7 linked regions of the Homo sapiens genome follow. The protein of the gene in region 1 interacts with the protein of each later gene in a pairwise test. Each region holds a gene or a part of one and is shown in the gene's direction. Other genes may lie near its edges.

Region 1 (4,508 bases):
TCCACCTCTGCTCTGCTGAGGTGCTGCGATTATTAGCTAGCTTTTAGGTAGTCAAGTTGAGTGTTAGTCAAGTTGACTCAAAGGATAGGATTTAGATATTTTGATTTTTAGACAGGTGTTCTTTAGATGCTAAACTAATGCAGTAGAAGAGATTTAGAAGCCTGTTTCTTGGTACAAATCTTAAATCTTCTTAGAGTCTACAGTGAAGGCTTCTTGAATCCTCCTAATTTATTATTGTGTTTTGCTAAGGTACCAATTACAGCACACCCTTCTAAACTTTTGAGTGTTCCTGTGTTTGGCTTGTGGCCAATTGTTAATTTAAACATCACGGAGTTTCTAAGGCAAGGAGATGTTAGCAGTATGTCTGATTGTCTAAACAGCTATCCAGGACCATACTCTTGCTCCTTGTTTTCTTTTGCTTTGCAATGGGAAGTGACTCCCTGATTTTGCTGCCTGCTAGATAATTTCTCAGCTGAATTCTTCTCTTGCTTAAACAAAATCGGAGTAATTTTCTTTCAGATGGTGATGAAATTTAACCTAAAACTATTTTTCCTTTCACTTTCTTATTATTCCTTTTTTTTTGGTGTGGTGGAGAGGAGGAGGAGAGTGATTCCTAGTCTCTCTTATTTTTCTGAATGTTTAGATTTAAAAAATATTTACCCATAACTTCTTGGGATCTCTCTGCTCCATTCCCACCCTACTGCCTCTCCTGTAGGCTTCTATGACATAGAGAAGCAACTTTTGGTTCACCTGGATTGTAGTTGCTGACTTCAGGACCTTTAGAGAATGTTTAAATTCAGTGGGATATGCTTGGATGGTTCAGAGCAGCCTTACAATACATTTTAAAAATATCACACCCACAGAAATTCTATTTTGCCCACAAAATTTGCATTGATCTAGTTCCCACTCTGTGTTGCCATTCCTAGTGATCCTCCTCCCTACCTCTCCCATTATGGTAGAAAAAAACTCTGTGTCCTGGCTACATCAAAATCTGTTGGGGTGGATCTTGGACTCAGCACCCAGGGATTCTGATAAGGTAAGTTTGAGAATCCATATTTTTTCAAGGTTTACAGGTGATTCTGACAAGTAACTTGGTTGCAACCCACTGATTAAGTACATTTTTTTTTTACCTTCAGGTGTGTGTATGAGGTCTTTCTAAATTTAAGAAATTTCCATAACAAATGTAACCTTAGTCATTCCAGTGTTTAACACTTCTGACTCAAGAATTTTAAAATTGCTAACGTAAGAGATATAGAATATAATGTCATTTCTTCTGTTTATCTGGGTGCAGTATGTCTGCATTGACCCTTTAGAAGGGCTTCATATATTTAGATGATATAATAAATTCTCTACCTCTCCTTTTCCCTTTTCTTCTGTTATCTCTTTTTCCTTAAATGTCATTCATACATGTTGTTTTTTGACCCTTTATCTATATACGTCTGCAATGATTTTAGAGTAAAAAACTGCAAGGCGTGATTTGAATAAGGATATAAGAAATTTTACATCATTTTCTTTATATTGTGTTCACAGTCCATAGTTACATGCTTCCTTTCTTGATGTCTCAGTTCGAATGCCTAAATTTGAACTATTAATTTTCCTTCCACCCTTTCCTGATTTTCCTGTTTTTGTTTCCCCCCCTTTCTCTGCAAATGACTTGAAACCAAAAGGTCTTCTTTTCTTTCTTTGTCAGTCTACCATATGTGTAGTATTTTGGACAGATCACTGAACTAGGAGCCAGAAGACCAGAATTCTTCTCCAGGTCTGTTATTAATTGGTTTGGTGACCTTGTAGGAGAGCCACTGTTTTGGTCCTCCATTTTCTGATGTTCATTGTTCATGGTCACAGAGCCAATTAGAGTTGAGACTAGAATTCCTTTCTTCTGGTGTCCAGTGCCTCATTCACTGTCCACATTGCTTCCATCTCGTGTACAAATGCGCTTATGTGCACAAAAACTCTTATAACATCCTCAAGTGCTTATTGTTAATGCGTACATGAGGAAGGAATCGTGTATTTTCATTTATGTGTTTATTCTAATGCCCATACCCTACCCCTGTACCTGGCATGATGCCTTGGTATCTAATAGGCACACAATAAATACTTGTTCAGTCGAACAATTATTTTTAGCCACTTTCTTATTTTGGACAACTGTGGTACTCCTAGACATTTTAAAAATAGTATTTGCAGGAGTCATGCTTACCTTACATTTGGGGAAAAACCAAATTTTTCCCTTCCCCAGATGTTTCATTTAAACTTGTAATTTTGAATTTCTTTGTGTGTGGGGTTTCTTTCTTTCTTTTTCTGATCACTTCTGCAATTTATAAAGGTCACTTTGACTTTGGAATCTCACTTCAAAGGCACTGCCATCCACCCCCTGCCTCTCATTCAAGTTTGCTTCCACTGCTTCCTGTATTACTGTATTACTAGGCCAGCAATTTCTGTTATTTTGTCCAGAATAGCCACACCTTATTGTAATTTCATCATTTTGGGGACTAGTCATTTTTGGAATACTATTTTTAAAATTAGAGTTAACTAAGTTTATATTTATTTTGATAATTTTTTTTGAGATTTTTTTCATTGAGTTGGATATTGCAAACTTGTACTGGATTGAGAGAATATGTACATTTAGTAAAGTATATTTGCTTTTTTTTTTTTGAACCAAGAGAGTCCCCTGAACACCCTACTGACAAAAACTAAAGGTGAAATATGATGAATAAATATTTGAGAGAATCACATGGTGTTGAGTTGTCTCTGCCACATGATTTTGATCCTTGAGGGCCAGGTCTGTGCTACACACATTTCTTCTCTGTACTACAGAACTTGTCTGGCATGTGCCCCAAATTCAGAGTCAACTGAGCGGCAGGTCTTAGTCACAGCATCTGTGACTCCTGCTTTCCCACCTTTAGAACATTCTATAGGAGAGGCTGATGGTGAGTTGGAGTGTGTTTCTATGTTCTTTTTTCCTTTGAAGAGATAGGATCAGTTGAAAGCTGACCCCACCCACAGACTTTTTTTGCTATCTCTTTTAATTAATTAAGGAGTGGCTGAAATTTTCCTCTTTGTTGACTTATGCATTGGCGGGAACTTTAAAATTCATCTAGTCTTTCTGTCCATCCCATGCTGGATCTGATGTTTACAACATTCTAGTCAAGAGGTACCATATTTTCTCTCTTCTTGAACATCTCTTGTGGTAGACAGCTCTCCACAGCAGTTTATTCCATCTTTGGCCAGCTCTAATTCTTAGAAAGATCTTCTTATATTCAGCTGTAATCCATCTCCTCATGACTTGTCCTCATTGACATCTACTCAGAAATTTGTCTCAGAGTCCTGAGACCTGTGCAGGTGATAGGGACCCAAAGAGATGCTTGTCTGTAGACTTTACTGAGCTGACACCCAGCTCTCCATAAAAGGAGTCAAACCCAGTGAGGAGCATGTCTGGGGTGATTGCTCAGGTAAAGCATCTTAGCCCTACTTGTTTCATACCTCCCTGCACAGGTGGGCACTGGTGGGAGAATAACATTTATCAAGCAGTGTTTCCCTAACCTCTCTTATGATAAGAATAGCTCAGGTGTTCTCATGGAGATTCTGATTCAGTGCATCTGGAATGTCATCTGGGAATTTGTGTGTTCAAGAAATAGCCAGGTGATTCTTACATTAGGAAAGTTTTAGAATCACTGCAGAGTGAATCTGGGAAATCAAAGTGTTTGTTTTTGTTTGTTTGTTTTTTGAGAGTATTAGAGACAGGTTGCTTTGGCTAGATCCTGTGGTCATTTTTCCCCCTTGGAAATGCCTCCTACTTGCTGGCCTCACTTAGTACAGAGAAGAAAGCTGCTATGGTATAAGGTTAGTAAAGTTGTTTGTTTTGTCTTAAAAGAAATTTGCGAAATCCAGCATTTTCGGACTTCTGTTTGTGTTGTATGACTTTGTTGTAAGCCTCCTTATTCCTCCATTAGAATGTTACCTGAGATGTTAGAATGCATAGGAGTTCCACAGCCTTTTTGGTGTCCACTAAAGAATTCTGTCCTCAGCCGTTGCAAATGGTGCTTCCTTTGAGGATTTCTGCTTCATTAGCTCATGAACACATATTTGGTGTCGGCAGTTTCCCTCAGATGTGTTAGTGTGGAGAGATATAAAGGTCACTCATTTCTGGTGGTCCTGCTTTTGGGGTTTCTGGGCTGCTGCAGCAAATGAAATAAGGAAAGGAAAATAAAGGAGGAATCTAGGGCTTCTTGAGCAGAACAAAACAATCTGCAAGAAGGGGCACAGGATTGCTCCTCTCACAAAGACACTTGATAATACTGTCCTTGATAGGAAGAAGGAAGTGGCTTCAGATCTGAAAGGATATGCTCATAGGCTTGAGACGGGACAAACTGCATCACTGGTAGTGGTAGGAGGTTTGCCGTAGATCTGTTTTTTCTCCTGTCTCTCTTTTTTGAGGAGAATATTATCTGTATGGCAGAACATACATTGTGGTCTTAAAAAGGAGAGTAAAGCCAAGAAAGGGGGATGAT
Region 2 (4,508 bases), on another chromosome or scaffold:
TGAACCTGGGAGGTTGAAGCAACAGTGAGCCGTGATCGCACCACTGCCCTCCAGCCTGGGCAACAGAGTGAGACCCTGTCACTGACAGAAAAAAAGCCTTGTCCCTGAGGCAAAAAGCTTCTGAAGGGGTGAGTAGAAGCCATAAGGATCCAGAAAGTGATGGGGATGGGAGCTGCGCCTCCAGGTCTGAGGGGAGAGGGAAAGTAAGCAGGAGGCCCGTAACTCAGAGGAGGCCTCTGCCCATCCTGCCAGGGAGAAAGTCAAAAGCTGCTGTTCTGTGACCCTTGCCCCGACCCTGTGGCACCCCCCCAACCATGGGGCAGGAGGAGACACTCCTCAGAGGGTTGCACTTGTTCCTAAAAGCAGCAGGAGCTATTTCGATGATTGCAACATTTATAAAAGAAGAAATCACGACCTCCTTCAACAGCCCTTTGACCTGAAGAGTGTCGTTTTGAGTTGGGGTGTCCAGAGCCGCAGCTGCAGCTCCAAGAGGCAGATGTGCAGAGAGAGGCTTGCTTTGACCACACGGGGCAGGAGCAGGGCCCAGCCAGGGAGAGGCCGGGGTCTCAGCTCACCCCCCCGTCATTCTTTTTTGTTTGTTTTTTGAGACGGAGTCTTGCTCTGTCGCCCAGCCTGGAGTGCAGTGGCATGATCTTGCCCTACTGTAACCTCCGTCTCTCAGGTTCAAGTGATTCTCTTGCCTCAGCCTCCCAAGTAGCTGGGACTGCAGGCGCCCGCCATCACACCTAGCTAATTTTTCTATTTTTAGTAGGGACGGGGTTTCACCATATTGGTCGGGCTGGTCTCGAACTCCTGTCCTCAGGTCATCCGCCCGCCTTGGCCTCCCACAGCGCTGGGATTACAGGCGTGAGCCACCGCGCCCAACTCATACCCCGGCATTCTTTCAGGGACTGCCAAAAAGAGCAAGATCCTGTCCAAGGAAGAACAGAAAGTGGTTGCGTTTCATGAGTCGGGCCACGCCTTGGTGGGCTGGATGCTGGAGCACACGGAGGCCGTGATGAAGGTGGGTCTTGGCAGGTGCCGGCTCCACGGGCCTTGGCCAAAGGTGGGTGGGGAGTCCCGCCTGTGTCTGTAGCTGACTGGGGAGTCCCGCCTGTGTCTGTAGCTGACTGGGGAGTCCCGCCTGTGTCTGTAGGTCATGTGAGAGGAAAGCCTGCCACTGTCATGATCCATGGAGCAGGGTGGGTGGCGACTGATGGGCGGGAACTCGGACGTGGGAGGCAGGAGTGGGCTGTGTCACATCGGAGCATGGTGCTGCTACTGGGGTGACTCGTGGAAGGTTACACCATGCAATGGGGTTTCGCTGCCTTTGCCTGTCCACCCCAAATGACTCCTAACATTGGAAAGAAGTGAGTTGAGTGTACATTTAAAAAATACTATTCTAGGCTGGGCATGGTGGATCACCTGAGGTCAGGAGTTCAAGACCAGCCTGGCCAACAGGGCAAAACTGTCTCTACTTCAAACAAACAAACAAAAAACTACTCTTGTAGGCAGCTGTGAACTCGATGGACATTTATTCTTACCAAATGGTGATGTTACAGCTTCTCTAAGACGTGGCTCCACCACCGGGAGTCCGAGTGCTGCCAAGAGGAGGTCTCTACTCGGAACGCAGGTGCCGTCTTTACAGTGGAGCCCCAGGAAGCCGTGCAGGTTTGAGGCTCACCTGAGAAGGCGGCAGTGCTGTGTTCCTACCTCAGGGTTCACTGCAAACAATGCATACGCTGTAGCAGTTGCCAGCTTGGTTTGTCAGTGCTGGTCTCCGTGATTGGTTCTCAGGTGTGAGTTGTAGCAAAGTTGCGTGTTAATCAGAGAGCGTCCTGCCCATCCCAGGGTCTCAGCAGGGCTGAGGCAGCGTTTGGGGACCAGATCCGTGCTGCTCCTTGGCGATGTGCACCACAGTCATGGGACCAGAGCTAGGCCCACTGTGGGGCGAGTGGACACTCAGCTGGGGGTCCCATTTATGGGACACTAAAAAACTCAGCAGTGAACACGACGTTTTAACACGGTATGTCAAGAAATCAAAATTAATGCAGGGACTTTGGGAGGCCAAGGCGGGCAGATCACTTGAGGTCAGGAGTTCGAGACCAGCCTGGCCAACCTGGTGAAACCCCATCTCTACCAAAAATACAAAAGAATTAGCTGGGCGTGGTGGTGCGTACCTGTAACCCTAGCCACTTGAGAGGTAGAGGCACAAGAATCGCTTAAACCCGGGAGGCAGAGTCTGCAGTGAGCCAAGACTGTGCCACTGTACTCCAGCCTGGGTGACAGAGCAAGACTGTCTCTCAAAGGGAAAAAAAAAGAATTTTTACTGTATTTGATGGGCAAAAGTCAGATAGTCACAATGAAAAAGTGAGTCTCTTTCCCAAGGCTCAGTGTCCTGCCAGGAAAAGGTTGTGAATTGGCTGTTATGGTTTTGGTCATTAATGCAATCATCACTGCAGCCGTTATTTAGAGCTTCTTTTTGTTTTGAGACAGGGTCTCTCTCTCTGTTGCCCAGACCGGAGTCCAGTGGTGCGATCACAGCTCACTGCAGCCTCGACCTTCCGGGCTCACACGATCCTCCTACCTCAGCCTCCTGCATAGCTGGGACTACAGGCATGCCCCACTGGTGGCTCGAGTGATTTTTATATTTTTTGTAGCGAAGGGGTCTCGTTATGTTGCCCAGGCTAGTCTCGAACTCCTGGGCTCATGCAATCTGCCCACCTCTAACTCCCAAAGTACCGAGATCACAGATGTGAGCGACCCCGCCCAGCCTAGTTTTAGATTTTAAATTAAGCGTCCTCGGGATTCTCAGAGCACTTGGATGTGGCCATCTCGCCGCCACAATTCTCAGAAGCAGCAGCTGGGCCAGCCCCTGCCCCGTCTCCGTCCGTCTCCCACTCAGCGGTTCCGTGTTGTCGAGTTAGCTCGTTGCCCCGCGCCACCTCCTTGCACACCTGATGTGGGGCTGTGGGGGAGCAGCAGAGGTGAGGACAGCCTCTGCTGCCTCAGCATCGTGGGGTTCTCATTGCTCTGAACCCTCAGTAGCTGTCGCTGGTGTGAGGGGTCAGCGCAGCGGCCATCGGGGGTGAAACTTGTCCTTCGCCTCTCAGCTGTCTTCTACGGGCCTTGTCTTCTTGACTCCCTGCCTGTCTAGTCATGTATGAGAAGACACTTCCCGGCAGTGTGTGAACAGGCACCTGTGGTGGGAACGCTGCTGTCTCTGGGCTGGCCATCTAGAGTGTTAGGATCCCCTGTTGTTGTAGAGGATGCTGCACATTTGCCTTCCTGCTTTGAGACGCTTTAATGACGGAGACCTCTTAGTCCCACACCTTCCTCCTCAAAGCCCACGCATCCTGCCTACTGACCTGGGTCATCTTGACCTTGTGCCAGGTCTCCATAACCCCTCGGACAAACGCCGCCCTGGGCTTTGCTCAGATGCTCCCCAGAGACCAGCACCTCTTCACCAAGGAGCAGCTGTTTGAGCGGATGTGCATGGCCCTGGGAGGACGGGCCTCGGAAGCACTGTCCTTCAACGAGGTCACTTCTGGTGAGGAGCAGCGGCGCGGGCCCTGGAGGTTTCAGAGCGCTTTTCCCTGCATGACTCCTTCTGTTCCAGTGCATGCCATGGGGTGAATCTGGTGTAGACGTAGCTTTGAATTTATTAAGTATTTTGTAAAAGATAAGTTGTGGTCATAAGAGAGTTGGAGCTAAGCAAGACTTCTTAGATAATTTAATTGGACAAAAACTTAACCTATATGCCAACTCTAGACACATTTAATTGGTTAATTGTTGGTAATGGCTACAGGAAACGGAATAAAATTGAAGCGGCTTCATTGTTCTGAAGCCATTACTGCACTGGGATATCCAGAGAGCTGAAGGAGGGTCCCGGGGGCCCCTGGGCTCCAGGTCCATGGGTTTGCCTCGCATAGGCCTGGGCTTGTGCTTGAGAACTGCCATGCAGTGAGCTCCAGTATGCCCCCGGGTTCTAGATTTCCAAATAAAAGAGCATTTCGGAAAGTTTTAAGACTCTCTTAAGGAACAGTGGTGAGGTGCCAACGTCCTCACTGTCCAGCTTCACGGTGGGTCCTCGGGAGGAAGGGGATGGAGGTGGTGCTGCCTCAGTGCTCTGACCGGGACACCTGGGGCCCAGCACTGCTCTGCGCCTGCAGTGCTGAGGATGCCTCTGTCTCGACCCCGCCCTCCAGGGGCACAGGACGACCTGAGGAAGGTCACCCGCATCGCCTACTCCATGGTGAAGCAGTTTGGGATGGCACCTGGCATCGGGCCCATCTCCTTCCCTGAGGCGCAGGAGGGCCTCATGGGCATCGGGCGGCGCCCCTTCAGCCAAGGCCTGCAGCAGATGATGGACCATGTGAGTCGGCTCTGGCCACACCGCTGCCCTCTGTGCTCCCCGGGGAGGGAGTCCCTGGGTCTACCACACAAGGGTCGCCCACGGCCGCCCCAGCGGAGCTCAGCTGCAGGCCCCACCTGGGTTTCTTCCTTCT
Region 3 (4,508 bases), on another chromosome or scaffold:
TTTATTTATTATTATTATTATTATTTTTGGAAACAGACTGGAGTGTGCACACAGCTCACCACAGCCTCAACCTCCCAGGCTGATTCTCCCACCTCTCCCTCTTGAGTAGCTGGGACTACAGGCGTGGGCTACCATACCCAGCTAATTTTTTTTTTTTTTTTTAATTTGTAGAGATAGGGTCTCATGTTGCCCAGGCTGCTCTGGAACTCCTGGGCTCAACAGTCCTCTGACCTCAGCCACCCAAAGTGCTGGGATTACAGACTTGAGCCACCATATCCAACCTGTTTAATCATTTTTAATCTAGAATAGTCCACTGCTCAACCCCCTCCTTTTACATGACATTAATTTTTTGAAGAGAGTGGGTTCATTGTTGCCCCATTTTCTGAATTTTTCTGAGTGTTTCCTTTTCGTGTTCATCTGTCCTCTGCATTTCCTGTAAAAGCAATCATTTGCTGAGTATACAACACATCTGATAAGGCCCCTACCATTCCTTAATGCTTATTGTTTGAGGCTGGGGTCACTGGCATGACCCTGCCGTCGGCACACAGTATGTTGGAGGCATGTTTGGAATGTGAGCGGAAGAGCAGCTAATGTTCAAGGCAGTGACATTTCGGCTGAGTCTTAGTAGAGAAAGTAGGGACAATGTAGATAGGCATTGATACCTGAGAGCAGCAATTCCCAAGTACTATTGGCTGGTTGTCCCTGGGAGGTGCCAGAGGAAAATCCTTGAAGGTTGTGGGGAGCAGGTTGTTTATTTTTGTAGAGACGGGTCTTGCTCTTTTGCCCAGGCTGATCTCTAATTCCTGACCTGAAGTGATCCTCCCACCTTGGCCACCCAAAGTGTTGGGATTACACGCTTGAGCCACCTCACCCGGCCAGGAACAGGTTGTGCAGGGTCATAAACTCTGTGCCAAAATTAGATTTGGTCCTAGAGGCTTTGGGAAGCTACTGCACACATTCTTTTTAGATTATATATCATTTCCTATCATCTCACTGTCCTGAGATAAGCATGTTTTGGTCTATCTTCTCCCTAAGGGTGTGTGTGTGTTTCAGAAGGATTTAAAGCTGGAAGTGACCTCAGAGTTGTGCTAGAAATAACAATTCTGGCCACTTGGTAAGGGACGGATTTGAAGGGGTGGGTTGTCCAGGACAGAGGTGGCATGGGGAGAGAGAAAAGAGCTTATGGACACAGGGACTTTCAGGAGCTGAAACCAACAGAAGAACCAGGGTTAGACTCAGAGGTTTGGGAAAGGGTTGCTTGATGCTGTAATTAGCTCAGCTGTCGCCTCCCTGCCATCTGTTCCTCTTCTCCCTTTGCTCACCAGGCAGACAGAAGCTGTCACCCAGGCTTCCCGGTTCCCATGTGGCTGATTCCTTAGCTATGCATCCTGGGTCCTGGGAAGGGACCTCAGGAAAGATGGGTGGGCCACACACATGGTGTGAGTGAGTGTGCTCCCAGACAGAGCAGGCTGCCTCATCTCAGCCTTTCTCAGCCACCTCTCTCTACCTTGCAAACCTTGGTCATGGCCTTAAGGAGCCCTGTGAGGTGGGTATCAGTGCTCATAGTGTTTGTGGCGTGAGTGGATCTGGCCTCCCAGATTGCTAGCCAAGACACCAGCAGCAAGTACTGCAACAGGGACAGTTGCAGTTGCCTTAGTCTGGTGATCTGAGTTGAACAGGGGGCCCTTTGGGCTAAGCCTGTGCCTCCAGGTGGGTGTGTATGCTCACTGTCCAAGACAGTCTGCTCTGGAGGTGGTGAGTGCCACTGTGGACAGGCACTCCAGTGCTCTCTCTGATGTGGGTAGTGACCTCCCCTTCTCACCTTCTCCCACCTGGGCCATTCTCCTCACACAGCTGCAAGTCTTTCCTCACAGATGAGGACACTGCAGATCACATGTTTCTATGCTGTCCTTTCCCAGGCCAGGAGAATGGGTTGGTGAGAGAGGCTTTCTGTTCCCACTCTTGTTTGGTGCCTCTTGCCTGCAGTTGCTATCAGCTTAGGGTTATGGTAGTCACCCCACAACGCAGCAGGGCCCAATCTTCTAGGGAGGCTTGAGTTCGTGACCCTTTCTGGAATCCTTATTAGGACCCCATTTCAGTCCGCTGAGTTCCTTGGCTTCCTGAGCTGGCAGACTCCTGGACTTTGTAGAGAGACTGCAGCGTTAGGAGGACCTGCCAGAGTGTTGGTGCAGGGTCACGGCTCTCGTGGTCAGCATTTTGGTGCTGCCTGTTCAGGAGGCGAAGTTCCTGGTGGTCCAGGAGACACGCTTATGGTTGTAGGTCTGCACTTAATCCTGAGTCCTGGTTGGTGCTTGCCCAGGACTCAGAGGGCAAGGCGGGGGTCTTCTCTGCCACTGGCTTATGTTCTTCTCTCTCTGTAGTTTGTCCTGAAGAATTATGGAGAGAACCCAGAAGCCTACAATGAAGAACTGAAGAAGCTGGAGTTGCTCAGACAGGTAGGAGGATAGTATTATCTTTTTATGCATGGGTAGACAGGATTGGTTTGATAGGGAGATAAAGAAACTGCCTAGGCTGGGCATGGTGGCTCAACGCCTATAATCCCACCACTTTGGGAGGCCGAGGTGGGCAGATCATTTGAGGTCAGGAGTTTGAGACCAGCCTGGCCAACATGGTGAAACCCCATCTCTACTAAAAATACAAAAATTAGGCAGGTGTGGTGTCATGTGCCTGTAGTTCCGGCTACTCAGGAGTCTGAAGCAGGATAATTGCTTCAACCCAGGAGGTGGAGGTTGCAGTGAGCTGAGATCATGCCACTGCACTCCAGCCTGGGTGATAGAGCGAGACTCCATCTCAAAAACAACAAAAAAGAAACCACCTGGCCCTTTCTAGCTTTTGATGTAAAGTGAAAGACAGCTGGATGTGTGACTCATGCCTATGATCCCAGCACTTTGGGAGGCCAAGGCAGGAGGATTGGTTCCTCCTGGAGTTCAGGCCCAGGAGTTTGAGACCAGCCTCAACATAGTGAGGCCCTGTCTCTATAGAAAACAAAAAAAATTAGCCAGGCATGATGGTGCACAGCTATGTCCCCAGCTACGCAGGAGTCTGAGGAGGGAAGATCACTTGAGCCCAGGAGGTTGGGACTGCAGTGAGCCAACCATGTTCATACCACTGTACTCCAGCCTGAGTGACAAAGTGAGACCCTGACTGTTTAGAAAACAAAACAAAAGTGAAAGATGTGTGACTCTTCCTTTCACTTAAACACTTAAGAGGCCATTGTAGGTTATTAATTGGCCTAATTTCAATATTATTGTGTCTCAGGGAATAGGGAGCCTGAGGAGAGGGAGAGAGGCAGGAAAAGGCCAGCCAGTGAAGCAGTGAGAACACACGGAACATTTATAAGTCTGCCGTCTTCTATGGGTGCAATTCATGGCACCAAAAACAATTATAATAGTAACATCAAAGATCACTGATCACTGATCACCATAACAGATATATAATAAAAAAGTTTGAAATATTGTGAGAATTACTAAAATGTGACACAGAGTCATGAAATGAGCACATGCTGCTGGAAAAATGGTGCCGACAGGCCTGTGTGATGCAGAATTGTCACAAACCTTCAGTCTGTAAAAAACACAGCACCTGTGAAGTGCAATAAAATGAGGTATGCTGTATTTTTTTCCTGATTATTGTATGTACTATTGGATAACAACATGTTTTCCCTTATGTTTTTGTTAGAAGGGTAAGAGTCTGCACTGGCATGGCTGAACTTGAGTACCAGTAATGTAGATACATGCCATAGAAATCAGTAGCTGTTAGTGTTTTCTTGTCTATCATGGACCACATACCAATCCTTGCAATAACCCAGCAGTACTAGCAACTATTGCCAGTATACTACCCATCAGTAAATTTTTGGATACATTTTCATTTAGTCTACTGAGTGAAGATATTTTCTTTTTTCTTTTTCTGAGACCTAGTCTTACTCTGTCACCCAGGCTGGAGTGCAATGGCGCGATCTCAGCTCACTGCAACCTCTACCTCCCAGGTTCAAGTGATTCTCCTGTCTCAGCCTCCTAAGTAGCTGGGACTACAGGCGCCCACCACCACGCCCGGCTAATTTTTTGTATTTTTAGTAGAGACAGGATTTCAACATGTTGGCCAGGCTGGTCTCGACCTCCTGACCTCAGGTAATCCACCTGTCTCGGCTTCCCAAATTGCTGGGATTACAGGTGTGAGCCACCGCGCCCCGCCTGGTGAAGATATTTTCTATGTCAGTTATTCAAAATTAGTACAAGGCCAGGTGCAGTGGCTCACGCCTGTAATGCTATCACTTTGGGAGGCTGAGGCAGGTGGATCACTTGAAATCAGGAGTTCGAGACCAGCCTGGCCAACATGGCGAAACCCCCTCTCTACGAAAAATACAAAAATTAGTCGGGCATGGTAGCAGCGCATGCCTGTAATCCCAGCTACTAGGGAGGCTAAGGCAGGAAAATTACTTGAACCCAGGAGGTGGAGGTTGCAGTGAGCCAAGATCGCACCCCTGCATCCAG
Region 4 (3,850 bases), on another chromosome or scaffold:
TGTGGCTGACGCCTGGGGCGTGGAGCTGCCCAAGCGTGGCTATCCCCCTGGTGAGCCCTACCATAAGTGGGGGGGTAGTGATGCACTGGGGCCCTCAGAGGACAGGGCTCAGAAACAGAATGGGACACAGCCACTCAAGGGAAGTAGAGGTCCCTTGAAGGACTCCTGTGGCTTCTGCATGCACCTTCCTCAACCCCTGAGGAGGGTTAGATCATCGGAGCAATATTCTTGTCCAAGTTCCAGTTTTCTACAGTCTGGCTGTGTAGTCATTTCTGTGTGCTTGAAGGAGCTTGTACAAGTATTGACCACATAAGGCAGCATGTTGCAAGGGTCCTACCCAACAGATTAACAGGAAAGAAATGGGGCATGGGTGTGAGGAGTGGAAAGACAGGGAGGAAGGGCCATCCAGGCAGTGTGGCAGAAGCAAAGAAGCCCACAGCTGGGGGGTGGGGGTACAGTCAACTGGCAGGGTGTGGAACAGGGATGTTGCATCGGGAAGGCCAGCCTTATGGACTTGGGCTCAATGGACAGTGTTCCATAGGCTTCTTAGTTCAGCCTCAGAGTCCCACTGTGACTGGTGCAGCTTGGTGTAGCTCTCCTCGGGCCCCATCTCTGGGCCTTTGGTGGAGGCTTCTGAGGGCCCCACTCCCCCTTGTTTTGAGGCACTGCTCCCCATCACATCTCAACTGTAACACTCTGCTGCAGAACCTCTGTTTCCATGTCAACACCCTAGTCCCTGCATGCACACAAAGAGGGCACCATGGCTGATTGTCTCCATGGCTGCTTCTCCCCTGCATCGTGTCCTTAAAGGGCAAGTTTCCTGCTGCACTTGTTGACGACTCACCCCTTTCAGCCCCAGTGTCTAGCACAATTTCCCTGTACACAGTATCAACAGAATTGTATTTGTTGAATGGGAGGCACGAGTCATGTTAGAAGGCCGATTATGGCAGCACAAGAGGATGTGGGGGCACAGAGAGTCCAGGAATATCATAGAGACAGACCTGTAACACTTGGTAGCCAGGAGTTGGAGCATCAGGGAGGTGAATACAGATTTTGGTTAAACATCCCCATTTTCTTGTTTAGATGTAATAATTGATCCCCAGCAAATGATGGGATGCCCTGAAGGTTGTAAGGCTAGTTTTGATGGCTTAGGCCTTTGAAATCCAATTTGGAGCTACAGAAGTTAGGGCCATGAAAAGGGAGAGTTGATTTGGGGTGGAAGGATGAGTTGGTGAGTTTGGTCACAGCAGATTGATTTGAGGTTCTTTGGAAATACAGAGTAGATTTGCAGTCATTGGTACCCAGCAGAGAGATTAAAACTGAGGGCACAGTGGCAGCTGTGAGGGAGACAGAACGATGCTCATGCTTTGGATTGGCAGGAAAGAGGGGCTATGGCGGAAACAAAAGGAGATGAGGGCAGGGGCACTTTTAGGAAGGACTGAGGCTGCTGGCAGTGTCACATGACTGTTGAGAAGAAGGGAATTTGTTAGCAAGTGGTTACATTTAGTAGGAAAAGTGTTGAGGGCATGGGTTTGGATTAAAGGAGGGAGTGAGCAATTGAGGAGGAAGTGGAAATTGGGCAAAACATTCCTTTTGGAAGTTTGGATGGTAAAAGGAAGTTGTTGGGGAAGGGAATAACAGGATCTTTATGTTTGGCTTATTTACTGGTCTATGGGGAGGAGGTGGGCGAGGAAAAAGCTAGATACAAGACCTGGGCAAACAAAGAAGGCTCTGGAGGGAAGTGTAGGTTAGAACAAAGGTAAGTCTGAGAGGTAAGAGAGAAGGAACACACTTTGGGCTTGGCCTGAAATGAGAGGGAATGAGGAAAACTGGGTAGAGGGCAAGGATGCTCCAGCCTGGTGGCTCTGCTCTCCAAGAGGAAGGAATAGAGCTTTAGAAGTGTGGATGGCCAGAGTTCAGGGCAGCCTGGCTCCCAAGCCTACCTAAAACAACCATCCCATTCCTAGACCCGTGGATTGAGGACTGGGCAGAGATGAATCATCCATTCCAGGGAAGCCATAGGCAGACCCCAGACTTCGGGGAGCACCTGGCCTTGCTCCCACCCCCACCTTCTTCTTTGCCTCCTCCCATGCCTTTTCCCTACCCGCTTCCTCAGCCCTCGCCACCTCCCCTCTTCCCACCCCTGCCCCAGGATACCCCTTTTTTCCCAGGCCAGCCCTTCCCACCCCATGAATTCTTCAACTATAATCCAGTGGAGGACTTCTCGATGCCACCCCACTTAGGTAGGTGCTTCTGCAGCTCCCCCACCCTCTTGTACCTCCCCTTACCCAGCCTCCTATGCCTAGGTGAGCTGAGAGGAGTTGGGTAGCTCCTTGTGCCCCTAGCACTGGGTTTGGTCACAGCAGTCCCTGAGTCTGAAACATCATCTGTAGGTTCATTAATCAGCTCACTGGTTGTCACTGTTTCACCGTCTGAAGGTAGGGGAAGGACTATCCCTTTTTTGTAGATAGGGAAACAGAGAAGCTCACCTGGAGGACAAGAGTTGCTTCAAGGCAGAGCTGCACTCACTCTGGCCAGAAGCCTGCTCTTATAATGACTGGTTCTTTTGTAGGATGTGGCCCTGGAGTGAACTTTGTGCCTGGCCCTCTGCCACCTCCAATCCCTGGCCCTAATCCCCATGGTCAGCACTGGGGCCCAGTGGTCCACCGGGGGATGCCACGCTATGTTCCTAACAGCCCCTACCATGTGCGGAGAATGGGGGGGCCCTGCAGGCAGCGGCTCAGACACTCAGAGAGACTGATCCACACATACAAACTGGACAGACGGCCTCCTGCCCATTCGGGGACATGGCCTGGGTAGACTGGATCTTGGGCTGGGACTGGATGTGCCAATGGCCCTTCAGGGCCTGCCTGGCACCTCAGGTACTGGGCTAGGGTGTCTGCTATGCCTGGTATTGTTCTTGTCCATTGCTGTCACCAATAAAGGCATGGAAGAACAGAGTGACAAATTCCTGTGTGCAGTGGGTATCCCAAACCATGATCTTAAGATTGGGGGAGGTTGCCTCTGGGCTTTGTCCAACGTGGGGCCTTTGACCCCACACTATTTAGAAATCATTGAATGTGCCCTCCTGTCTCATACTTAATTCTACCCTCACCAGAACATGTGTATTTAACAGAGATCCTGGAGGGGTCCCCTATTGTCAGCACCTTGGGGAAAAATCAAGGGCTAAGTGGAAATTGTTAATATTTTGTCTGGAATTTTGGGTCTGGCTAGTTCTTACCTATACCTCCCGGTCTCATGCATTCATGTGTATATTCGTTATTCATCTACCTCCAAAGATACGAAGATGCATAAACTTATCTTGCATAATTCTTGGCACATAGTGGACACACAGTAAGTGGTTGGAATGAAACTAGAAGCTCCCAAACCCAAGTGGGAGACGTATTCGAAACTTCTTCTTTTTTTTATTTTTGAGATGGAGTCTCACTCAGGCTGGAGTTCACTCACTGCAACCTCTGTCTCCCGGGTTCAAGCAATTCTCCTGCCTCAGCCTCCCAAGTAGCTGTGACTACAGGCGCACACCACCACACCTAGCTAGTTTTTGTATTTTTAGTAGAGAAGAGATTTCACCATGTTGGCCAGGATGAGGTAGATCTCTTGACCTCGTGATGCGCCCACCTCAGCCTCCCAAAGCGCTGGGATTACAGGGGTGAGCCACTGCGCCCGGCCTCTATTCGAAACTTCTAACTTGATTGATGAGATGTGCAGTGGAAGGAAAGAGAACACAGACCAACCGCTTTGGTGCTGGTGGTGAGACAAAAAAGGAGCTGAGGGAGACAAAATCCAAGGTGGGTGCCAGGATAGGGGTGGTGGTAGAGACACTGTTTTA
Region 5 (3,912 bases), on another chromosome or scaffold:
TTATTGGTTATTAAATGATAGTATCAATGCATCTCTATGTAATGCCATATTGGATAGAGAAAAACTGTTTGGGGAGTCAAGGAGCCTTTTTTCAGATGTTTTTCGTAATACCTATTACTGCAACTTTCTAAAGCTCAAGTTTTCTCGTATGAGTACTTGAAATAGTAAGATCTACTGTATAGAATTGTGAGGACAAAGTGAATGGCACATGTGGGCACCCACAGCACAAGGTTCTTCAGAGTAGGCATTCCATGAATGCCAGTTTCCTCTTATTCCACACCCCTTCTCTTCATGGAAAACCATCCATGTATACATAGAACATGTAGTATATACATCTATCCACACATACACACAAGCGTATTGATGTACTAATGATACAGATGTTGGGCTCTTGTTTATATTAGAGAAGAGCAGACATAAAAAGGATCAACATACAATTTCATAAGCATTCAGCTAAATATGACTGTACCTATTACTAACGCCATTCAGCTGATGCAACCAGGATTTTACAAGAAGACTCTAGCAGCTGTATACACAGAGTATTAGGTGATGTCCGAAGTATACAAAGTATCCGGTTATACAAACAGTATTAGGTGATGAGGGCCTGGGGTTGGGGGTTGGAGTGAGTGGGGCTTTCTCAAATACATCAGGTACAAATCGTCTGACCTAAAATACTGAGATAAATTCAACATGTTAGTACAGGACCTCCGGGATTATACCATTTTATTTTTATATTTCTCCCCCAGTAGTAAAATAGTCTAGTGTTGTCTCATTGAGAAACCAACTTTCTGTTTCAGAGATTTCACTCCTCCAGGACAGAGGGAGACTGGATAAGCACAAGTATGTCCCTCAAACACCAAAATAGAAGAAAGTGTTATGATTTAAATTGACTAGCCAAAAGGAATTGGAACTTAGAGCCAGCAGATAATTTAAAATCCCATTAAAATAGCTACTGGAGCCACTGGGTATGTCAGTATGAGAAAAATATAGAGGGATAGTTGAAACTAACTAAAATCATACATTTTTTAAAACAATTTTACCAGAAATACATATTCTCAAATGACCTTTAAAGTACTAAAACTTAGGAAAACAATAATTTATCCTGATGCTTTTCCCTATGTAAAGCAGTTTAGAAGCTCCTTTTTGGAAATTGACATCAAGGCCAATGTAGAAAGCAAAATAAATTCATGTCATAATCAGTGTATTTTTTAACCAAGAACAATATTTTTTCAGTTGGAATATGAGAAACCATGCAATACATAACCTTGAAATAATCATGAAAAATGTCAAGATGCCTGACTTTCTTTAAGAGGTCTACTTCTCTGCTTTTGTTCACAGTAGGATACATAATTTTAACTTGGCCCAACTTCATTATCTATATTCAAGAATATCTTAAACATAAGCCAAGGTTTCAGCTTCACTCAGCTTATTTATTTATTGAAATGACTAAAATGAGCACATATTTTTGAATAAAGATATTTTGGTAGAAAGTCAAGTCTGAATAGAATTCTGAAATAAAGCAAATCACAACTTAGAAAAATAAATTCTAACCAAGCAAAACATATTGAAATTGTCCATATTTCTGTCATATAGTTTGCAAGGATTTTCATTTTCTCTTATACTTGTTCCAAGTTACTCACTTCTGGCAATTTCCAAGAAGAATAGAATTTTTCTTCAAAAAGATGTAAGTTCTCACTGTTTCAAAGAAGTTGCTACAACTTTCAAAGACAATTCTAAGAGAGGAATCTTAAGAATGTTTGTGCAATGGTGGTTATAATTGGAATAAGCACATAGGCTTTAAAATGTGTCTGTTTTGTTTGGATAATTTAAGAAGGATAGATCCTATTAAAACTCAGTCGCATTGGTTTATAGATAGACGTAATCAATGGATGGCATTGCAAGGAGCATCCAGTTTTATGGAGGGTGGAAGCCTCACTTCCTTGGCTATAATAAAGAGTTCTGATGCATCTTCATACAACAAGAGGAAGAGTCTGCACGCAGAAGCACCACCTTCTAGGGATAAATAAAGGGTCAAGCTAAGGAAGGGCAGAACAAACTTCAGACACTCACTTCTTTGCCTCAACTTCAGCCTGCTCTCACAACCTCACTATGTCTTGCCCCAACTACTGCTCGGGAAACTCCAACTCAGGATCTCTCAGAACCTCCCGCCATATTCCTCTCACCTCCATCGACCTCTGCCCTACCAGCGTGAGCTGTGGAGATGTCCTCTACTTACCCACTAGCTCTCAAGACCATACCTGGGTCACAGACAACTGCCAAGAGACCTGCGGTGAACCAACCAGCTGCCAGCCGGTCCACTGTGAGACCGGCAATCTTGAAACCTCTTGCGGTTCTTCCACTGCTTACTACGTGCCCAGGCCTTGCCAAGGAAGCAGTTTTCTTCCTGCTTCTTTCTTCTCCAGTTCCTGCCTTCCAGTATCCTGTAGACCACAGAGGTATGTGTCCAGCGGCTGTCGTCCACTGAGGCCGCTGCTCAATAGTTACCAGCCCATAGGAGACTGTGTGCCCAATGCCTATCGCCCCCAATTCTGCTTGTCCAAGAGTTGCCAGCCCCAAAACCTCCTCACTTCTGGATGCCAACCCTCGAGTTGCTTGGCCTATCGTCCTCAAAGTCTTCACGTTGTGTCCAGCAGCCTCAGACCTCTGGGGCCTCTGTTCAGTGGTTGCCAACCTCTGACCCATGTGTTCAGCACGTGTCGTCCATCTTGCTCTGGACTGTGAAACCAGCAGCTTCTTTGTTCCAGTGAATAATCACTCTGAGCATCCACAACAAAAATTCAAACTCCATGGACTTTTGCTTCTTTGCTAGTAGCAACTGATGTTTCTTAGTTTTACTGTGCCTGATCTAATGCAAGCTGCTTCTCTCGCATGTTTTATCTTGTTTTCATCTTTCCTTGACATCAAAAAAATTAGTTTACAATGCTATTCAATGTTGCTCTGGTCTGGGAAGAATGTATTTGTTTTGCACTATAATAAATGCGATTAAGTCCAAATTAAGAATCTGGTTCAGCGCTTTGTGTTTCATGACTTAATTTCAACACAGAAATAACCAACGTCAATTGCTTGCAAGATGACTGAGCTGGACAAGTGATACTCAACCATATATTCTTACCTGACAGTAGAGGGATTGTTTGATGGTTTATTCCTTAAGCTGCTTTTTAGACTTCTGACCCTATGTACTTGAGAGACCCAAAAAGTCCTTGGGAAAGCTGTTTTGAAAAGGAAAAATTAGGAGTGATGTCTCTTATCTCTCTACCCCATGAACACACTTCCACCAGAATGTTCTTTCTAATTGCAAACCTAACCAAGTTTCTGCTTACGCCTTTGATGGCTTCCTATAATCTATTCCCATAAGATAAATATTCAAACCTCTTAGCATGACACCTAGTTCCCTCACTGTCTTTCTCCCCCATACCTCTCTGGCTTCATGCTCTTTTGCTCAATATTGCAAATAATAAAACTAAGCTCCTGCGATCCTGACTTACACATGGGTCCCCAAACATATGCTTTTTACAGTCATCCATCCTTTTGCATAGGTCATCATCGAGAGCGGTATGTTCTTCAGCTCTGTTTTGAAAACTCATACTTGCTTTTACAAAAACACAGTCTTGAGTTCATTAATTAATCTTTTGATTTATTCAGAAACAAAGGTACTGCTTGCATACTATATGCCAGGCACAAAAGATACTGAGGTGAACAAAACAGTCCTGAACTATCACAGAATTTGCCAGAAGTTATAAGCTATGGGACATGTAACAATTAAAGATACATTTTTTCTCTCACTCAACCTAAAATGTGTGGGGGCATATATTTCATTAATTAAAAGGAAATAAAGTTTTAAAAGCCTGAATATTTACCTTTTTGAGGAACTGGAATAGCTAGAAAAGCTAG
Region 6 (4,508 bases), on another chromosome or scaffold:
TGATTTTAGAAGTCCTTAGAGATCATAAAAATAAAGCAGAATTTATTGGTGAAAAATTGGAAAAGATGATGGAGATGGCATTGTAGTTAGTGAATTTGGAGATTGTCTTCTTCATTTCGTAAAATCACTGCTTTCTCTGTATTCCTACCCGCATAGTGGGTACTATTATTATTACTGCTACTTACCTAACATTTATTGAGTGTATATTATGTTATGGGCATTGTGCTGAGTGCCTTGTTTATATAGAACGCTGTAAGGTAGGTATTACACTATTTCATTTTACCCATGAGAATAACAGGACTCACCGGAGATTAAATAAAGTACTTATTCAGATAGGAAGTTTAGAGCCTTGATTTGGACCCAGAGTTTGCATATCTGTACCAGTCATGGCAAGCTAAATATGTTTATTTTTATTATCACATTGAAGGCTTTTGTGCTCATGTTTTGCTTCTTTTTCATTAACTTGCCAAAATCCTTATGATCCTGTATTTCTTAAAGTTGAACCATGTAGAACTCCATATGTAATTAAAATCTAAGCCATACATAAGTAAACTAAAATGGAAAAAAAAAGTAGTAATTTTTAAACAGTACTTTAAAATTAGATACACCAAATGTGGTAGATGTGATAATTCAGTTGAACAGAATTCATTTTATGTTCATGAACTAATAATAGAATTTGAATAAACATTTTATATATGTTTGTAAAGTGCCTAGCACAGTGCTTAGTAGTTGATCCATAAATGATAGTAATTTTATTATTTTATTTTAGTTTCCACCTCACTGGTAAAAATAGGTAATGCTTTTTTACTTAGGGGTAAGATGTCCATACAAATGCGTTAAATACAGTATTGTAATCTGATATGATAACCTCAGCAGTTATTTGCACAATATTCTCATGGGGAGCACTTCATTTTTGATGTTACTTTCATTTACCTCCAGGATTTATTTGAGTACAAGTGTATTTTGGTAATTAAGGGCTGTAGTCTTAAACTTTAGCATGCATCAGAATTCTAGAGGGCTTATGAAAAGACAGTTTGCTAGGCACTATCCCTAGAGTTTCTGATTCAGCAAGTGTGGGATGGAATCAGAGAAGCTGCATTTCTAACAGACTCCCAGCTGATGCTACTGCAGCTGGTTTGTGGACTGTAGTTTTAGAACTGCTGTTCTAGGAAGTGGTGTGACTTCTAATTATTGCTGTTCTCTTACAATTACACATATCCAGTGGTGTTAATGTGTTGATATCATTGATGTTGCTGAATTTATTGTATGGTCCTTGTGAAATAATTTAGAGAAATTTGGTTTGTATGAGTGTCATTGTGCTTATTGCTTAGGAAGTTTCCCAAAGGTTACTTTTGCATTAGAGAATTTCGAAATACAGATTTTAACTTGTTTCTAGTCCTCTTTTTTTTTATTTAAGACACAAAACTACACAGCTTTGATTTTTAGGGGAAAAGGATGATAACTTTGGAATATATCTCACAAGGTGACTTTTTTTTTTCTGTTGTAGTTGATTTCTGAGAATTCCAGAGTATCAGGATGATGTAGCAATTTAAAAATAGTAACACAAAATTTTATCTCTAGTTTTTTTCAAAAATCTTTTTAAAACTAAAATTTGATAAGCTAGTACTGAGTAGAATTTGGTGCTCATCATTCACACGTATAAAGTAGATTTCACTCAGAATTTCACTTACACCAACATAACAATTTTACTTTTCCTTTTTAAAGCATAGCTATACCTTCAGGGATATGATGGTATAGTAGGGTTATTCTCTCAAAGAAGAAAAGGCAGTCAGAAAATCTTTGTTCATGAGATTAGACTGAAATCTTCAGTGATTCAGTGATTACTGAATGCCTCTATGTGCCAGGCACTATGGCAAAAATCAGTGCCAAAGTAATTTATCTTTATCATGTACAATGAGGGGTTTTAGTGGGTTGTAACTTAATATGATCTAATTGTGTGATGAGGCTACTGAGAAATCTAATGCAATCTTATGCTTCATTAATAGAATTAGTATTGTGTACAGATCTAGGGAAGTAAGATTCTCCTGTCTTAGTTTGCTAGAGCATGTCTGGAGGGTTAGGTTTAGTTTGGAGCTAACAGATCGATTGGAGTCATTCCAGAAGTGAGGAGCCCTGCAGTTGAAAGGCGTGGTCATATTTGCATATGAGGATTGTTGGAAAATAGGGGTAATATACTGGGAGGAAAGATGTCCTTATTAGTTCCATAATGTCTGGCTTCTCTGCTGTGCTGTAACATCCACAATGACAGTGACCTGTCCATCTTGTTTATCGCTGTGTCCTCAATGCCTAGCACAGTGCCTGGTGTGCATTCAGTAAATGGACGAGTTGAGTAAGTTTGGAGAAAGAGACGATGGTTACCTTCAAATATTTGTCATGTAGATGGCTTTTTTTTTTTTTTTTAAACGGAGTCTCATTCGCCCAGGCTAGAATGCAGTGGCATGATCTCAGCTCACTGCGTCCTCTACCTCCCAGGCTCAAGCAGTTCTCCTGCCTCAGCCTCCCAGGTAGCTGGGATTACAGGAATGTATCACCACGCCCAGCGAAGTTTTGTATTTTTAGTAGAGACGGGGTTTCACCATGTTGGCCAGGCTGGTCTTGAACTCCTGACCTCAAGTGGTCCACTTGCCTTGGTCTCCCAAAGTGCTGGGATTACAGGTGTGAGCTGCCACCACGCCTGGCCTAGATGGTTTGTTAATTACTTAAATTTTCAGAGGCCAAATGGAAGCACCAGGGATGGAATTTTTTTGGTGGGCAGATTTTAATTTTACATAAGAAGAACTTTGTAAAACTTAGTTATATTTGGCAGCCAAATTAATAAGCTTCTTCATGTATTTGAATTTGGTTATTTGAAATGCTTGAGTGGAGGCTGCATGGGGATTTACCTCTATACCTGCTTTTTTGATAGATTATGGGCCAAGATGATTTCAGCTGTTGACCTTTTTGGCTATGTGTTTCTATTTTTAAATTATTTCATTTGATAGAAAATAATGTCAACTAATAAAATATTTTTTCTAACTTAGACAATTCTTGTCATTTTAGACTAAAGCAAGCCAAAGAGCTGGACCGAGAGAGGGCTGCTGCCAATGAGCAGTTAACCAGAGCCATCCTTCGGGAGAGGATATGTAGCGAGGAGGAACGCGCTAAGGCAAAGCACCTGGTGAGTATTAAAAATGTAGGAGAAATTTTCTTGCCTACAAGGAAATCTCTGATGTTTGGGAAGAGCTAAGTACTCTGTGCCAGCTTTTAGTGTTGATAATATTATTCATGTTCTCTTTGCTCAGATTTTGATTTTTGCCTTTTATAAGTAGCTTACAGTTTAGGTTTAACCATCAAGGACTTTAAAGGCAGGTAACTCTGGAAGTATTGAAGACCAACATGCAGACATGTGTACATGTTTCACACCTGAAGGATTGTTGTCTGCTTTTTTTTCTTTTTCTTTCCTTTTTTTTTTTGAGACGGAGTCTTGCTCTGTCGCCTAGGCTAGAGTGCAGTGGTGCGATCTCAGCTCACTGCAACCTCCGCCTCCGGGGTTCAAGTGATTCTCCAGCCTCAGCCTCCCGAGTAGCTGAGATTATAGGCACCTGCCATCGTGCCCAGCTAATTTTTGTATTTATAGTAGAGACGGGGTTTCACTATCTTGGCCAGGCTGGTCTTGAACTCCTGACCATGTGATCCACCCGCCTCGGCTTCCCAAACTGCTGGGATTACAGGTGTGAGCCACCGAGCCCGGCCTGTCTTCTTTTTTTGTCCTTTGCCTTTGGTTTTATTGTCTTTGAAACCTCAGGGGTCAGCAATGTAGGCTTCTTTCTCTCGTGGCTGGCAACTACCAGATGTTAGTCTGGAAGACTCTGGCAAAGGTGAGTAAGGTTTGATCAATCACTGCCTGGGGTTTAGGGAAGAGAAAATGTAGAGCCAGGGCCTTGGGGAACAGTCTTTTCTAAGATAATTTTTTTAAAAAGAAAATATTTTTTAATCTTTTAAAAGATTACATAGACATGTTTTTGTTGTTGTCTTTAAAAGTATTACTAACAGACAGAAGAAGGTTTAAAAGACACCCATCAATCTGTCTTTCTGATATAACCATGGTTTACACCAGTGTGTGTTTTCCTCGAGATTATTTTTTTCTAGGCTTTTTAACATATTGAAACATTTAGATAATGCTATAGATGGTGTTAAGCCTCATGAACATTTTCCTATGTCACTGAACATTTTTCTGAAATGTAGTTTTTAATGGCTGAATAATGTTCTGCCTTTTGTATTCAACATAATTTATTAAGCAATTTCTTATTGTTATTTGATAGATAAAAGTGGAGCTGCTCTGGGTGAAACCTGGAGTGTTGACTGCTTAGCCTCCACTTCGGCCTTCCTAGAAACCCAGATGTTACTCCTCGGAACCTTTAGTCCTCATTGGAGCACAGTTGGGAACTCACTGGACAGGGAAAATGGGACCATGGAATGGAGAACTTTGAACTGAAGAGTGAGGGGGA
Region 7 (3,690 bases), on another chromosome or scaffold:
ATAGTACTCAAGTTTCTTCAAGTATTCCAGAGTAAAGTTCTGGATATTAGTTTCTGGAAACAGGCTCCAAACTGGATTCTGCCTATTAATGTGTCATAATTGGCAGGTGGGATGCTTTAAAAATATTTAGGAGAAACAAATACCCTGTAGTCCATCATCATTTTGTAACCTAAGTTACAAAATGTCTGGCTCCCACAGAGCATTTTCTAAGTCATGTGAATAGCTAAGTCTGGCCTTGTGTTACTGTGGACTAGTGTGTATATAGTTGAGTAATATTAAAATTTTGGTCATAAGGGCTCTGCTGGAAGCAGGGTCTCAGGAGGGTATTTTGCACCAAGTGAGAATTGAACTAGCAAGTTAGAAATCTGTATTTTCTTGGTTCTGTTGAGTTCTAAACCAATGAGTATCCTTAGGACATGTTAACCCTCCTATTTAAATTATGAGTTACTTGTTTTTCTAGCCATGGTGACAAGTTGCATAAAAACATCTATTGCATACTCGTTCCTAGAAATTCTTGTAACCAAAAGCCCAGCTCGGAGAGGACGTGGAGTAGGCTGAGGCAGTCTTGAACTTAGGATCTCAGCTTCCCATGTGCAACTTCCTTTTTCTAGGATTTGGCAGAGCAAGAATTGGGTAGAAAGACTGACTTTCCACCTGACCTGTTGCATAGTATTGTGAGACTGGCTGACTGCAGTGGTTACAGTACTCTCCCATTTATAATACAAGCAGCATGATTTTTAATGCCTGCAAAATAGAGTTTCCAAAGAAATGAAATCTCAGAGTCCTTTAGCACCTGCTCATGGGTCAAGGGCACCTTGACACCTGCTTCTTTCTTTCTCTGCTGATTTCCCAACCCTGTACTTCAGGTGCACAAATGGAGTCCAGAGGAGGCTGTAAGAGCCATCGCCAAGATCCGGTCATACATCCACATCAGGCCTGGCCAGCTGGATGTTCTTAAAGAGTTCCACAAGCAGATTACTGCACGGGCAACAAAGGATGGGACTTTTGTCATTTCAAAGACATGATGTATGGGGATTAGAAAGAACTCAAGACACTCCTGCTTGATACAGAACAAAAAGAGCTTAACAGGACCAACAGGGCTTAAGCCCAGACTTGACGTAACAGAAATGTGCCAATAGGTAATAGGTAATTTTTCTTTCTCTGACTTGTTTTGTTTTCTTGAAATAACACTGTTGTGTGGCTAGAAAGGAAAAGATTTAGTGTGGCTTGTATTCATGGGATACAGGACAGGGATGGGGCTATCATCTTTTCTTGAATAGGGCTAAAGAAGTATTTTAACAAAAATCTATTATGTACCTAATATTGTGCCTAATAATATTTAGCACCACAACTCAAAAAACATTTAGCACTTGAAAAAAGGAGACTCACCTCTGGCTCTTTGCCACTGTCAGAATCTGAATCTCACTGGCCCTGTGGAGTAGGGATCCTATCTGGAGAAGTGGGAGCATGGGCTGCAGTCAGGACTGCTGCAGACTGAGCCATGTGATGGTACGTAATGAGTTCCCCTGAGGGAATGAAACACCCTCACCCCTTCAAAGTCACCCCTTTGGAATTCAACACAGACACACATATCCCTTCAAAAACTTTTATTTGTATCAACAGTTCCTAGCTCTTGACTTAGCTTAGAGCTTTTAAAAGAGCAGACACCTTATATATTTGAGATTGAAAAAGTTTCTGCTATTAATCAGAAATAATCATTTCTATTTTCTGGCTTACCCCTTGGAATAAGCCAAAAATAAAACCAAAGTTACATTTCCTGACAGATGGATAAGAAAACAATAGAAGGAACATCCTGAATTCTAGAGTTGACTCTTGCTGGTGAAGTACACCTTCAGCTTAGTCCATTCTCCTAAGTAAAGCCTGAAGGAAAACTCTTAACACCTAATTCTTTGTGGAAAAATGATCAACTAGCCATTTCACAGGCTATAGAACAAAAGTACAATTGGGCATCTTTCCTTATGTCCTGGGATCAGGGGTGCTTACATTTAACATTGATCAGGTAAAGAGGAGAGGCTGTGCCTAAGGTCTGAGAAAAGGCTTGCTCTAAGCAAGCTGTGGTGAGGCACAGGATGACTAGGGAATGGCAGAGAACAGGCTGGCCTACTGTCAGTTCAAGCAACCAGCTGAGCAGCAGCAGTCTAAAAAGCCCCAAACAGAACACCTCCATGGATTCAGGGAAGGGCTGAGGCACTGCCTTTCTAGTATGTGCCAAAAAAAACATAACTCTGAATTGGGGCCCAGGGGACTTTGAGTTTGTATGGGGAGGGAAAAGGAGTGAGCAGTTCTCCTCCCCTCCCCACAGCCTTAGGCCAACACAAACTGCAAATTGGTAAGCAGCACCTTAATACCTCTTGTGACAGTTACGGCTGAAGTGGCAGGGTCAAGCTTGTAGGTGTTGGCATCCCCCTTTTTATATCGGTCCCGGAAGACATAGATGCTCCCGTTACAGCTGGCAATCTTCCAGAGGGATGGGGCAGAGCTCCAGGCCTCAGGAAGGCAAAGCCGGGTGAAGCTGTCTAGCAAGGGATTGTAGCACACCAGGGAGTCCCCTTCAGCCACGATGAACACCAGATCTTTATGCACAGCTGCGTGCATGCGGCCTGCAAAGGGCAGCACATAGGGCTTCACATGGCATTTGTCTGTCTCTGTGTCAAAGCACTGGATGAGTCGGGAAGGTTTGGTAAAGAAGTCCAGATCATTCTCCTCCCCCCCTAGTAAGTAGATGATCCCGTTGAGGTTGGCACCAGCAGCCCCTGACACAGCCACCTCTAGCTGAGTTGTCTCTGTCCACACATTATCACCTACGCGATAATAAATGACTGCGTTGGAGAGGGTATCTTGCAGTGTCTTGCCACCCAGTGAATATATGGCATCTTTCCCGGGCACAGACACCAGGGTGTGCTGGAGCCGGTCCCGAGGCAAAGGAGCACACCACTCCCAGTCAACGGTGGCATTGTTGCACTTCCACATGCGCCGTGGGATGGACCCTCCCACCACATACAAGTCTCCACCATGCTTGCAGGCCGCAGTGATCTGGTGGCACAAACTGTTTTGGCCACTTACACTGATGGAGTCATCTTCTGCACAGTGCAAGGACACAGCCAACGAGTGGGTACGAGATGACTCTTTCCCAATCAGGTAAATGTGCACATTCTCCCCAATTTCCTATTGGCAAAATTAAAATTATATGACAGCTGTTAAATTCTAGGCTAAGGCTCAGCTAAGACACATATCCTTAAGATCCTGGCCCTCACACTTGTTCCTAGCTTTATCATACTACTCTCTAATTACTGTATGGCATCCAACTCTCCTCTAGTCACTTTCTTTGAGGCAATTTATGCCGGGCGGAGAATCTGTTGTATTCATCCTTGTAGCTTTTAAAAAACTCTCATAAGCTAGTGCTTCAGACAAAGGGTGATTAAGATTGTTAACTTGATGACAGTAGTTCTCAAGGAACTTTGAAAGCTCATAGATTGGTGGTACTGGGGTTACAAAGACATCCTTCTCCCCAGCTCATATCAACTTCAAGCCAGAGATAACTTATTCAAAAATAAATAAATAAATACAAAAAATTAAAAAAACAAGAGATGGCCGGGCACAGTGGCTCACACCTGTCATCTCAGCACTTTGGGAGGCCGAGGTGGGCAGATCACCTAAGCTCAAGAGTTC

What was found.
Region 2: the proteins of NOTCH2NLA (region 1) and SPG7 interact in binary tests that used the Homo sapiens proteins (3 or more experiments, as listed by UniProt).
Region 3: the proteins of NOTCH2NLA (region 1) and PTPN23 interact in binary tests that used the Homo sapiens proteins (3 or more experiments, as listed by UniProt).
Region 4: the proteins of NOTCH2NLA (region 1) and PCED1A interact in binary tests that used the Homo sapiens proteins (3 or more experiments, as listed by UniProt).
Region 5: the proteins of NOTCH2NLA (region 1) and KRTAP26-1 interact in binary tests that used the Homo sapiens proteins (3 or more experiments, as listed by UniProt).
Region 6: the proteins of NOTCH2NLA (region 1) and CHCHD3 interact in binary tests that used the Homo sapiens proteins (3 or more experiments, as listed by UniProt).
Region 7: the proteins of NOTCH2NLA (region 1) and PTPMT1 interact in binary tests that used the Homo sapiens proteins (3 or more experiments, as listed by UniProt).

Annotation. Positions count from the first base shown.
Region 1 is NC_000001.11:146,222,254-146,226,761, reverse strand, and holds part of NOTCH2NLA (notch homolog 2 N-terminal-like protein A), read left to right. Parts: intron 1-4,508.
Region 2 is NC_000016.10:89,549,586-89,554,093, forward strand, and holds part of SPG7 (mitochondrial inner membrane m-AAA protease component paraplegin isoform 1 precursor), read left to right. Parts: intron 1-908; coding exon 909-1,024; intron 1,025-3,393; coding exon 3,394-3,550; intron 3,551-4,208; coding exon 4,209-4,375; intron 4,376-4,508. UniProt on the Homo sapiens protein: Catalytic component of the m-AAA protease, a protease that plays a key role in proteostasis of inner mitochondrial membrane proteins, and which is essential for axonal and neuron development.
Region 3 is NC_000003.12:47,393,762-47,398,269, forward strand, and holds part of PTPN23 (tyrosine-protein phosphatase non-receptor type 23), read left to right. Parts: intron 1-2,381; coding exon 2,382-2,456; intron 2,457-4,508. UniProt on the Homo sapiens protein: Plays a role in sorting of endocytic ubiquitinated cargos into multivesicular bodies (MVBs) via its interaction with the ESCRT-I complex (endosomal sorting complex required for transport I), and possibly also other ESCRT complexes.
Region 4 is NC_000020.11:2,834,432-2,838,281, reverse strand, and holds the end of PCED1A (PC-esterase domain-containing protein 1A), read left to right. Parts: coding exon 1-50; intron 51-1,967; coding exon 1,968-2,243; intron 2,244-2,572; coding exon 2,573-2,820; 3' UTR 2,821-2,968; downstream 2,969-3,850.
Region 5 is NC_000021.9:30,318,233-30,322,144, reverse strand, and holds KRTAP26-1 (keratin-associated protein 26-1), read left to right. Parts: upstream 1-1,829; 5' UTR 1,830-2,109; coding exon 2,110-2,742; 3' UTR 2,743-3,021; downstream 3,022-3,912. UniProt on the Homo sapiens protein: In the hair cortex, hair keratin intermediate filaments are embedded in an interfilamentous matrix, consisting of hair keratin-associated proteins (KRTAP), which are essential for the formation of a rigid and resistant hair shaft through their extensive disulfide bond cross-linking with abundant cysteine residues of hair keratins.
Region 6 is NC_000007.14:132,973,839-132,978,346, reverse strand, and holds part of CHCHD3 (MICOS complex subunit MIC19), read left to right. Parts: intron 1-3,060; coding exon 3,061-3,178; intron 3,179-4,322; coding exon of another isoform or gene 4,323-4,370; exon of another isoform or gene 4,371-4,508. UniProt on the Homo sapiens protein: Component of the MICOS complex, a large protein complex of the mitochondrial inner membrane that plays crucial roles in the maintenance of crista junctions, inner membrane architecture, and formation of contact sites to the outer membrane.
Region 7 is NC_000011.10:47,570,605-47,574,294, forward strand, and holds the end of PTPMT1 (phosphatidylglycerophosphatase and protein-tyrosine phosphatase 1), read left to right. Parts: intron 1-866; coding exon 867-1,025; 3' UTR 1,026-2,325; downstream 2,326-3,690. Other genes in the region: KBTBD4 (kelch repeat and BTB domain-containing protein 4), read right to left, coding at 2,326-3,186. UniProt on the Homo sapiens protein: Lipid phosphatase which dephosphorylates phosphatidylglycerophosphate (PGP) to phosphatidylglycerol (PG).